Linked DNA regions of Homo sapiens: region 1 is linked to region 2. Evidence: fine-mapped expression QTL. A gene starts in region 2. The other region holds a variant in brackets. All regions are shown on one strand. Distances are from middle to middle.

Region 1 (4,395 bases), 27 kb after region 2:
TGTGAGCCACCTCGCCTGGCCTAGAGTTGGGTTTTTAATCTTTTTACATACTTTGAGATTCTTTGACTCTTAACTGAAATCTTTACCTTTACATTTAATGTAATTTCTGATATATTTGGGTTTAAATCTATATCTTAACACATGCTTCCTATTTGTCCTATTGTTTCTGTTTCCCCTTCCCCTTCTCCTGCCTTCTGTACTCATTTTAATGCTACCAGTGGTTACCCTAATGATTACAACATTAATCCTTGACTTATCAAAGTTTAATATAAATGGATACTTTTATCTCTTCTCACACAATTAAAGGACCTTAGAATGCTTAAACTCCATTTACTCTTTTCCAGCTTTTATGCCACTGTTGTCATGTATTTCTATCCTGTATATGTTTAATTAGTTAACATTCATCGATATGTACACACGCACTTATATTGTCTTTGCTCTTCATTCTTTCGTGAATCTCTAAGTTTCCTCCTGAGATCATTTCCCTTCACCCTGAAGAACACCCTTTAGGCTGACAACTGCCCATGACTATACTGGGCCTTGTAGAAAACTACGGTTTTTGTGGACAAGAGTGACCAGGATACTTTAAATCAACTATTATTAACTTCCCTTAAGAAAAGGGAAGATTTCTTTCAAAAGATTCCTGTTTTTACTTGTATGGCAGTATTTTCACTTACTACCTGATTTTGTCAGCCTCGAAGATGTGATTTCTTTTTTTTTTTTTTTTGAGAGAGTGTTGCTCTGTCGCCCAGGCTGGAGTGCAGTGGCACAGTCTTGGCTCACTGCAACCTCTGTCTCCCGGGTTCAAGCGATTCCCCTGCCTCAGCCTCCCAAGTAGCTGGGACTACAGGCGCGTGCCACCACACAGGGCTAATTTTCTGTATTTTAGTAGAGACAGGGTTTGACCATATTGGCCAGGATGGTCTTGATCTCCTGACCTCGTGATCTGCCCGCCTCGGCCTCCCAAAGTGAAGATGTGATGAGTTGAATACTTACTTTGAGGAACTGTGGCACAGGATAATCCATGCTGTAATAATCACCAGACCAGACAGCTCCCTATAAAAGGGTGTACATTTCAGATTTTGGAAGTGGCTACAAGTGAGATGCATATCATCACATTCTCTCCATGACCACCTGATAGCGCATTCTGATTGAGTGACTGACTCTCCCTCAAGATCTATGGCATCGATGGAATATTTTCAAATCTGACCATGATTCATAAATTACTTTTTTCAGAGAATTTAAAGCCTCATATGAAAATACATTTCATCTTAAAAGGCAGGTATGAGATCCCTGACTATGCCCTGATTTATAAGTGGATCCCCCCAAAATGAAATGAATATTTTATAAAATCCACAGATACATCACTTTTTTCAGGTCGCTAGAAGAAACAGTGCAACTAAGAAAATCCCAGATTTGATCAGTCAATACTTTTACATTTTTAAAGAGGCTTCAGTGTGAGGCAGAATGAGCCCAAACCAATACATGATCTGTGTATATACTACAAGAGATTGGGTCACTTCCTAGGGGAGAGGAATGATTTGTAGTACAAATCAGACTAATAATTTGGGGGTGGGTATATGCTTCTATAAATATGTATTATATGCACATATCTTTTACATAGAATAAAAAACAATCACTTCAGCCATAATACCACTAGAAGCCCCAGGCTGAGTTCACTATAACCCATGGGCTTCATGCTGGAAGTGATTCAACCCATTTGGTCTACATTCTTATCTACAGACCCAACCTATAGTTTGGCTCTCCAGTGTTCTAAAGATTGGGGGTTATAACAAAGAAACACCTTTTCAGTGATGTTTAACTTACAGGTCTATGAATTTTGTTGTTGGCAGATGGCAGTAGGAGTAGAAAAGAAACAAAAGGACCTATTAATAAGTCCTCAGAGACAAGGGTGGGAGGAAGCAAAGGAAGAGGTGATAAAATAGGAGCAAGTGGTCATGACAAGGAAATGACACAAGACATACCAGGGCAAGTCTAACAGGTTGACTTAAAGTACTGATCTTTTGGCTGGGTGCGGTGGCTCATGCCTGTAATCCCAGCACTTTGAGAGGCCAAGGAAGGCGGATCACGAGGTCAGGAGTTCAAGACCAGGCTGACCAACGTGATAAAACTCTGTATCTACTAAAAATACAAAAATTAGCTGGCCGTGGTGGCACGCACCTGTAATCCCAGCTACTCAGGAGGCTGAGGCAGAAGAATAGCTTGAACCTGGGAGACGGAAGTTGTAGTGAGCAGAGATCGCGCCACTGCACTCCAGCCTGGGTGACAGAGCAAGACTCCGTTT[CA/C]AAAAAAAAAAAAAAAGGACTGACCTCTGAGATGGCTGCTCATACTTGTAGATAAGATTCTGGCTTAAACCAGAACTGAATTTGAGGCTGACAGAGTTATCACCATATTAGATCGGACTGAGTATTACTGTATCATACCGTTGCTAGTTACAAGGGGGCCAAAGTCCAACGGCCTGACAGTAATATAATGTAATATGTAGTGACTGCCACTAGCAGTGATAATGAAGCCTGATAGATGGGGCTGGGTTTGAATCCTGGCTCCATTATTTCCTCAGTTTCATCAGGTTATAAAGAAGATAATACCTTGCCTCCTCCACAGGGTACACTGGGGGAATTCAGTTATCATTGTGCACAGATGAGGTGTTGCAAACACGATTCCTTAGTTCTATCCCACAGTTCTATCCCTCCACAGGGTAACCGTCACCGCTCACCTGCCTTCTTCCTCATGTAAGATGTTCTGTTGTGTACGATGCAAGAGGTAGGACGCCAAGCCAACAGCCCACACCGTACAAAAGAGTATGTGTATTGCAGAGATACTTTTCCAAATAACATTACCTAAAAATAGATGTTCTGATGTTGTTAACCACGGAATCACAGCCCACAGAAAAAAAAAATGATCTTTTTGTATGTTTTGCCATAGTCTGCTTTCAGAAAAGACATTCAGACTCCCTCAGCCCCATCGCCCCTTTTTGTTTTAGGACAACACAGAGGTCACAGCACTAATTATAAACTTCAGTGGCCATTTCTTGTTTGGGTTGTTCAGCAGCTCCCCTTCCTAGGATGATTACCCTTATTTTCTCTGGGGATCCACCATGTCCACACTCACAGTCCATGTTTCCCAGTGAACTGGACTTTGGCTAGGTCAATCAATACATGTTATCTCCTCAGCCACAGTGATTTGGATCAGCACAAACGGACAAGCAATCAGAGCCAGCAACTGCATTCTGAGACTTTGGTAGAGTGAAGAAACACAGTCCATATTCCACTGGACGTGGCATCGTGAAGATGTGAATGGGGGGCTGCAGGGCCACTGTGTGGAGCCCAAGAGTGAAGTTAGCATGACAGATGGTGGAACTGAGAGGTGGAGAGAAGGTAAAGTTCCGAGTCCACCAGTCTGAAGCCAGCACCACCCTTCACCTTTTCAGTAAACTGTACCAATACCTTTTCTTCTCAGCTCATAGCACATTTGAGTTATTTTCTAGCTTGTATCTAAAGGAGCCCTAACTGATCTACCTTAAAGATGCAGACGGAGTTCTAGCTGCCTATACAAGGAGCCCAGGCATCTAGGGAACTAGAATTTTCCCCACTAAGGTGGGACTCATTAGTCTTTATTCTAAGGCCCCTGAGAACATTCGAGCCCCACTAGGAGAAACTGTTTTAAAGAAAGTGAAGAAGAATCTGTCCTCTCACTTCTATAAAACAGAAGACGCTGTTTTATAGCAGATCCTTCTGACGTTTTCCTGAAGATGGGTAAGGATGATTAGAATTAGCCCCTTTTATTATCAGAAATGAGAAGAAAGGCCTAGAGAGCCCCGTTTTACTCCTGGGAGTTGGGCAGATAGACCCTCATTATTATGAGGAAATCTGATTTGCTGTCTCTCCATTTAGAATGCAAGGCTTATACCTGTGACTTCAGGGTTAAGTCCAACAAGCAGGGTCAGTACTGCAGGGATTGTGTACACCACCTGTTAGCAAAAAGGGAGGAAATTACATGAGTTAAGATGTATGCCCAATATATGAGATGTTCAGAGATACAGGAAGTAAAGAAAGATGAGATCAGTGGCTGCTGTGCCCCATGATTTGCCTCTAAGTTTCAATGGTGATTGAGAAAGTGGTAGATTCTCCTTTTGTGGCACTTAGCACGTCTGCCTGCAATTTTATCTACCTTCCTCCTAGACTATAGGCTATTCCAGAAGCTCATTTATCTTTGAGCTCTAACACTGAGCACAGGGTTTTGGTCTTAAGACACACTAACTTTCCAGTCGCTCCCAAGCAACTTTCATGCCCAAATGGCCTTTCCCCACTTGCATAAAAGAAAATGTTCTTTGAAAAGTAGGGCAGGAGCAGCCACGATGCTAGATGGCCCTGC
Region 2 (4,395 bases):
CTGGAACAAATAAAAGACATTGATAGAAAAACAAGTGAAATCCAAATACAATCTGTAATTTAATAGTTGTGTGCCATTTAAAATTTCTTAGTCATGAAAAATGTGTCATGGTTATACAAGATGTTAATATTAGGGGAAGCTGGGTGAAAGGTATGTAGAACCTATGCTATCTTTGCAATTTTTTGGTAAATCTAAAGTTGTTTCAAAACAAAAAGCTAAAAAACAACAAAAAAGGTGCTAGTCCATAGCCAGGAAGACCTTTATACAGGGCTGAGCAGATGATAATCTACTTACTCTCTGCCTTTTCTTTCTTGACGTGCTTCATTCCAGCCAGTAAAGCTCCTCCAATAGCAAATGTGATTGCTAAAGACTTCCAGGAAACAGGCTACTGGGGCAGGGATTTCAAACATAAAAATTCTAGTAAGATGCAAACATTTAACCATACAAACTTATTAAAGTAGTTTTTAATATACATACACACAGGCCATGATGTTAAATGTGCAAAATGTTTCAGGGATGAGAAAATGCTCAAAGTTTCTGTGGATGCAGTTAGGTCTGGGATCTGAACTACAAAGGCATTCATCTCCAGGGGAAAGTTCCCTAAGTCAGTTCTCTTCATGTAAATAAAAAAAAAAAAAAAAAAAAAAAAAAGCTCAAGTACCACGATTGTTACTATGTGTGACCCTAGCTCCAGTAATGACTTTAAAACCAATTATGGCCGGGCGCGGTGGGTCACGCCTGTAATCCCAGCACTTTGGGAGGCGGAGGCGGGTGGATCACCTGAGGTCGGGAGTTTGAGACCAGCATGGCCAACATGGTGAAACCCCATCTCCACTGAAAATACAAAAATTAGCCGGGCGTGGTAGCGGACCCCTCTAAACCCAGCTACACGGGAGGCTGAGGCAGGAGAATCGCTTGAACCCGGGAGGCGGACGTTGCAGTGGGCCGAGATAGGGCCACTGCACTCCAGCCTGGGCAAAAGAGCAAAACTCCGTCTCAAAACAAAAACCAAAATCCAAAAACACACACACAAAAAACAATTATCTGCTTATGCTGATACTGAGATAAATAGACCAAACGAAATTTGGGAGGTTAACTTAACTCTGGCTTCCAGAAGTAACAATGCCAAAGTAGAAGAGGAATCTAAAAGTGGAGCTTCTTGCAAATTACACCCATTATTTCTTTGTACCCTTATTCAACTCCCCAAATGAAGATGATGTTGGCCAACTAGACTAGGCCTAACTCATTAACCTTCCCGTAGCTCCAAAAACCCACTTCTCTTACCACAGGGTAGTGGCTCTCAAGTTATTTCTGGGTCAGAATTAGAACTCGAGAGAACCCCAAGAAAAAGGCAGATCCACACATAACTAAGTTCCACTTTTTGTTTCAATTTCAACGTATACATGGAACTCTGGATGGGGCTCAAGTGACAAATTATAAAAGTCCTCTGACTTCTCAATCACGGTAAACTTTAGGTTCATACCCTTAAGAAAACCTGAAACTTAATTTTTTTTTTTTTTTTGATGGAAACGCTAACATAAAATCCAAGTCGGGGCATCCAGCCACGTGGAGAGGGTGTAAAGTCTCAAGTTCTCTGTGGAGAACTGGGACTACCCGCAAGGCACGGGAAATGTAGGATGAAATTCCATGACCCAGGTAAGGCGCGCAAGCTAAGGACAACTTTAGGGGAGGCGGAGTAGTGTCTGAGGTTACGACCAAGTGGGATGTGGCCGCTGGGCTGGCCGACAGCCGCGACGAGCACCAGAAGGGTTCCAGGTGTGCACTCACCCCGGGCTTCGAGGGGCGCGTGGAGTCTCCGGGGCCCTTCTGCGACCACGGGGGTGGCGGCCTCGCAGTGCTGAGGGGCCGGGTTCCCAGGCAATAGCCAGGGCGCCCCGAGGCACGCCACGCCTCCGCTTGCCGCGCGCAGAACTGCCTCAGCAAGACTCTCGCAGTCCCCTCGGCTGGGCCCCAAAACTCGAGTCCGCGAGGCAAGAAGCGCCAAAGTTGGCCACCCAGAGGCCGCATAACTCGTCCGGGTACTAGGACCAGCATCGCCATGAGCCTCGGAGACCGGGTCTCCTTTGACCCTCCCCGCGATTTCCGGTAGCGTTCCGCTTCCTCCGGAAGTCGGAAGGAGTCGCTCTGTCCGTCCCGCTCGTTGGTGGCGCTGTTACATAGCCCGTAGTCAGAGGCCTTTCAGCCCAGGGGCCGGCGCACGGTAGGTAGTTCCCTGCGGCTGGAGGCGGGTCTGGCGCGGGCTGGGCGGTGCTGCGGGGCCGCGGGACAGCGGAGCGCCGGGAAGGGGGCTGCCTTAGGGGTCCAGGTGCGCGGCTGGGCCGAGGCAAGGCGGCCCCAAGCGCTGGGGGCCCCCGCTTTGGTCGTGGGCTTCGGTGACCACAGCTAGCTCCTCGCGCCGGGGACACCCCCACCTCGGAAGAGAGAACACACTGCCTAGAGACCCACGGGACTGGGCAGCCCCCATAACCCTACCTTGTCTGGCCGACTTTGTCAACCTCGTCCTGCCGGCCAAGAGGAAGTGCCAGAATGTTGACTCCTTTACATCTTTGAAATAGAAACCGACCCATTGCGATTGAAATAGTCTTTAACTTAAAAAAAATTGCTAATTAGGATAATTTGAGTGGTTAGGGCGGTCTGGAAGAACTTTAAATGCCCAGCGCTTCTAGTTATTTAACATTATAATGTAACCTAATTAATAAAGCATAGCAGTGTGTAAAGAAATATAGACAGCATGATATCCCATCCGTTAACTTAGTCTTCCTGGGTCCCAGTTTCTTAAAATACTCTCACGGACTCCCTTGCTCCCTACAGTTTCGTTATTTGAAGTTTGTTATGGGTTCCTCATCTGGAACTGCTTATGTTCCTTGTTAATGAGGCCAAGAGCATTCGTAGGTTTTTCGTTCTTTGTGAAAGTCTAACTTCATTTCATCTGCCTTTATTTATATCTTAATATCCGCAATATTAACCACTCCCTCCCCGCCCCTACCTCGGTGGTTGCTTTACAAAATACAGAGAAATAAAAAAAGGAAAATCGTCCTCTAATTATCTTCCTTAACTACAGATCCCGCTCCTGTGTGGCTTTTTTTTCCCCCATGGGACCGACTCTGAGTAGGAGAAACTCGTGCTCTGATGATTGTTGGACCAGAGCATGGTTGGTTTGCTTGTTTTCTATGAGTTAGCCAAACTAGCCAACTGTTCTGTTCTCTAACCCAGTAACGGAACATAGTGTTACCTGTGTTTCTTGATTCGCGGTTGGACTAGAATTTTCAGAAATTTCTGCCAAAGTTCTTAAATGTTTGTTCAGCACTTCAAGTCGTTAATCAAACTATTTTTTTCTATCTTATAGTTGCCTGTGGGTAGGATTTTTGCTCTTTTATCTTTGTGTATTTGTTTGCCCAGGGATAATTTTTTCTTGTAATTGACAAAAAGACATAAAAGTACCTTGTGTAGTCAGGCAGATAGCATACAAAATTATTGTTCATCTCTGATTGCCCAATTGTAGGTTACCTGATCAGCCACCCAAATTAAGATTGAAGTCAGTGTTTCTACCTGATCTATTAAATTTTATTTGCTAAAGTGCTTCTTTTAGTAGCAACTTCTTCATATTAATTTTATAATATTAAATAAAATGCTATCATTGAAAACAGTTCTTGGGGCCAGATGTGGTGGCTCACGCCTGTAATCCCATCACTTTGGGAGGCTGAGGTGAGTGGGTCACTGGAGCCTAGGAGTTTGAAGCTGCAGTGAGCTGTGATCGGGCCACTGCCTTCCAGTCTGGGCAACAAAGCAAGACTCTGCCTCTAAAAAATAAATAAAATAAATATAAAATATAGTTCCTGGCTCAAAGTAGGTGTTTTATAACTGCATTTTGGATGAATTGCTAGTAACACCTGAGCCTGATGGCAAGGACCCATGAAACTTTAGTGCCAGAAGGCGCCTACAGTGTTATCCCTTATAGACCTTATCACTTTTATTACTGCTGTGAAACCACCAAAGTCACCAAATGAGGTTTATGTTTTGTTTTCCAAGTTAGATATTTTTCTTTTCTTTCTTTTTTTTTTTTTTTTTTTTTTGAGACAAAGTCTCCCTCTGTCGCCCAAGCTGGAGTGTGCAGTGGTGCGATCTCAGCTCACTGCAACCTCCGCCTCCTGGGTTCAAGCGATTCTCTTGCCTCATCCTCCCGTGTAGCTGGGACTAGAGGTGCGTGCCACCAGGCCTGTCTAATTTAAAAAATATATATATTTTTAGTAGAGACAGTGTTTCACCATGTTAGCTAGGACGGTCTCGATTTCCTGACATCGTGATCTGCCCGCCTCGGCCTCCCAAAGTGCTAGGATTACAGGCTTGCGCCACCACACCCGGCCCCAATTTAGA

Direction of the effects. Positions count from the first base shown, and alleles are read on the strand shown. Sizes are in standard deviations (SD) of each study's normalised expression.
For the expression in pancreatic islets of the gene that starts at base 2,087 in region 2, C is the high allele of the variant in region 1 and CA is the other (moderate effect, 0.63 SD a copy in PISA).

Evidence for each region. PIP is the estimated chance that this variant, and not a neighbour inherited with it, causes the effect.
Region 1: its variant is the best candidate, but not a certain one, in a credible set for the expression of SCO1 in pancreatic islets (PISA, PIP 0.60).

The regions. Positions count from the first base shown.
Region 1 is chr17:10,722,274-10,726,668 of GRCh38, forward strand. It overlaps TMEM220 (transmembrane protein 220), which reads right to left. Exons shown (of 6, transcript NM_001004313.3): 3 at 3,931-3,991; 4 at 2,738-2,861; 5 at 997-1,056. Among named protein-coding and RNA genes, the nearest start is that of TMEM220-AS1, 5.3 kb to the right of the region's middle. The variant CA/C (reference allele first, on the strand shown) is at 2,306.
Region 2 is chr17:10,695,447-10,699,841 of GRCh38, forward strand. SCO1 (synthesis of cytochrome C oxidase 1) reads right to left here and starts at 2,087. Exons shown (of 6, transcript NM_004589.4): 1 at 1,789-2,087; 2 at 295-385. The coding sequence starts at 2,061. ADPRM (ADP-ribose/CDP-alcohol diphosphatase, manganese dependent) reads left to right here and starts at 2,148. Exons shown (of 4, transcript NM_020233.5): 1 at 2,148-2,221. RefSeq lists enhancers at 1,064-1,887, 1,888-2,712, 2,006-2,300, 2,016-2,065 and a silencer at 2,186-2,515.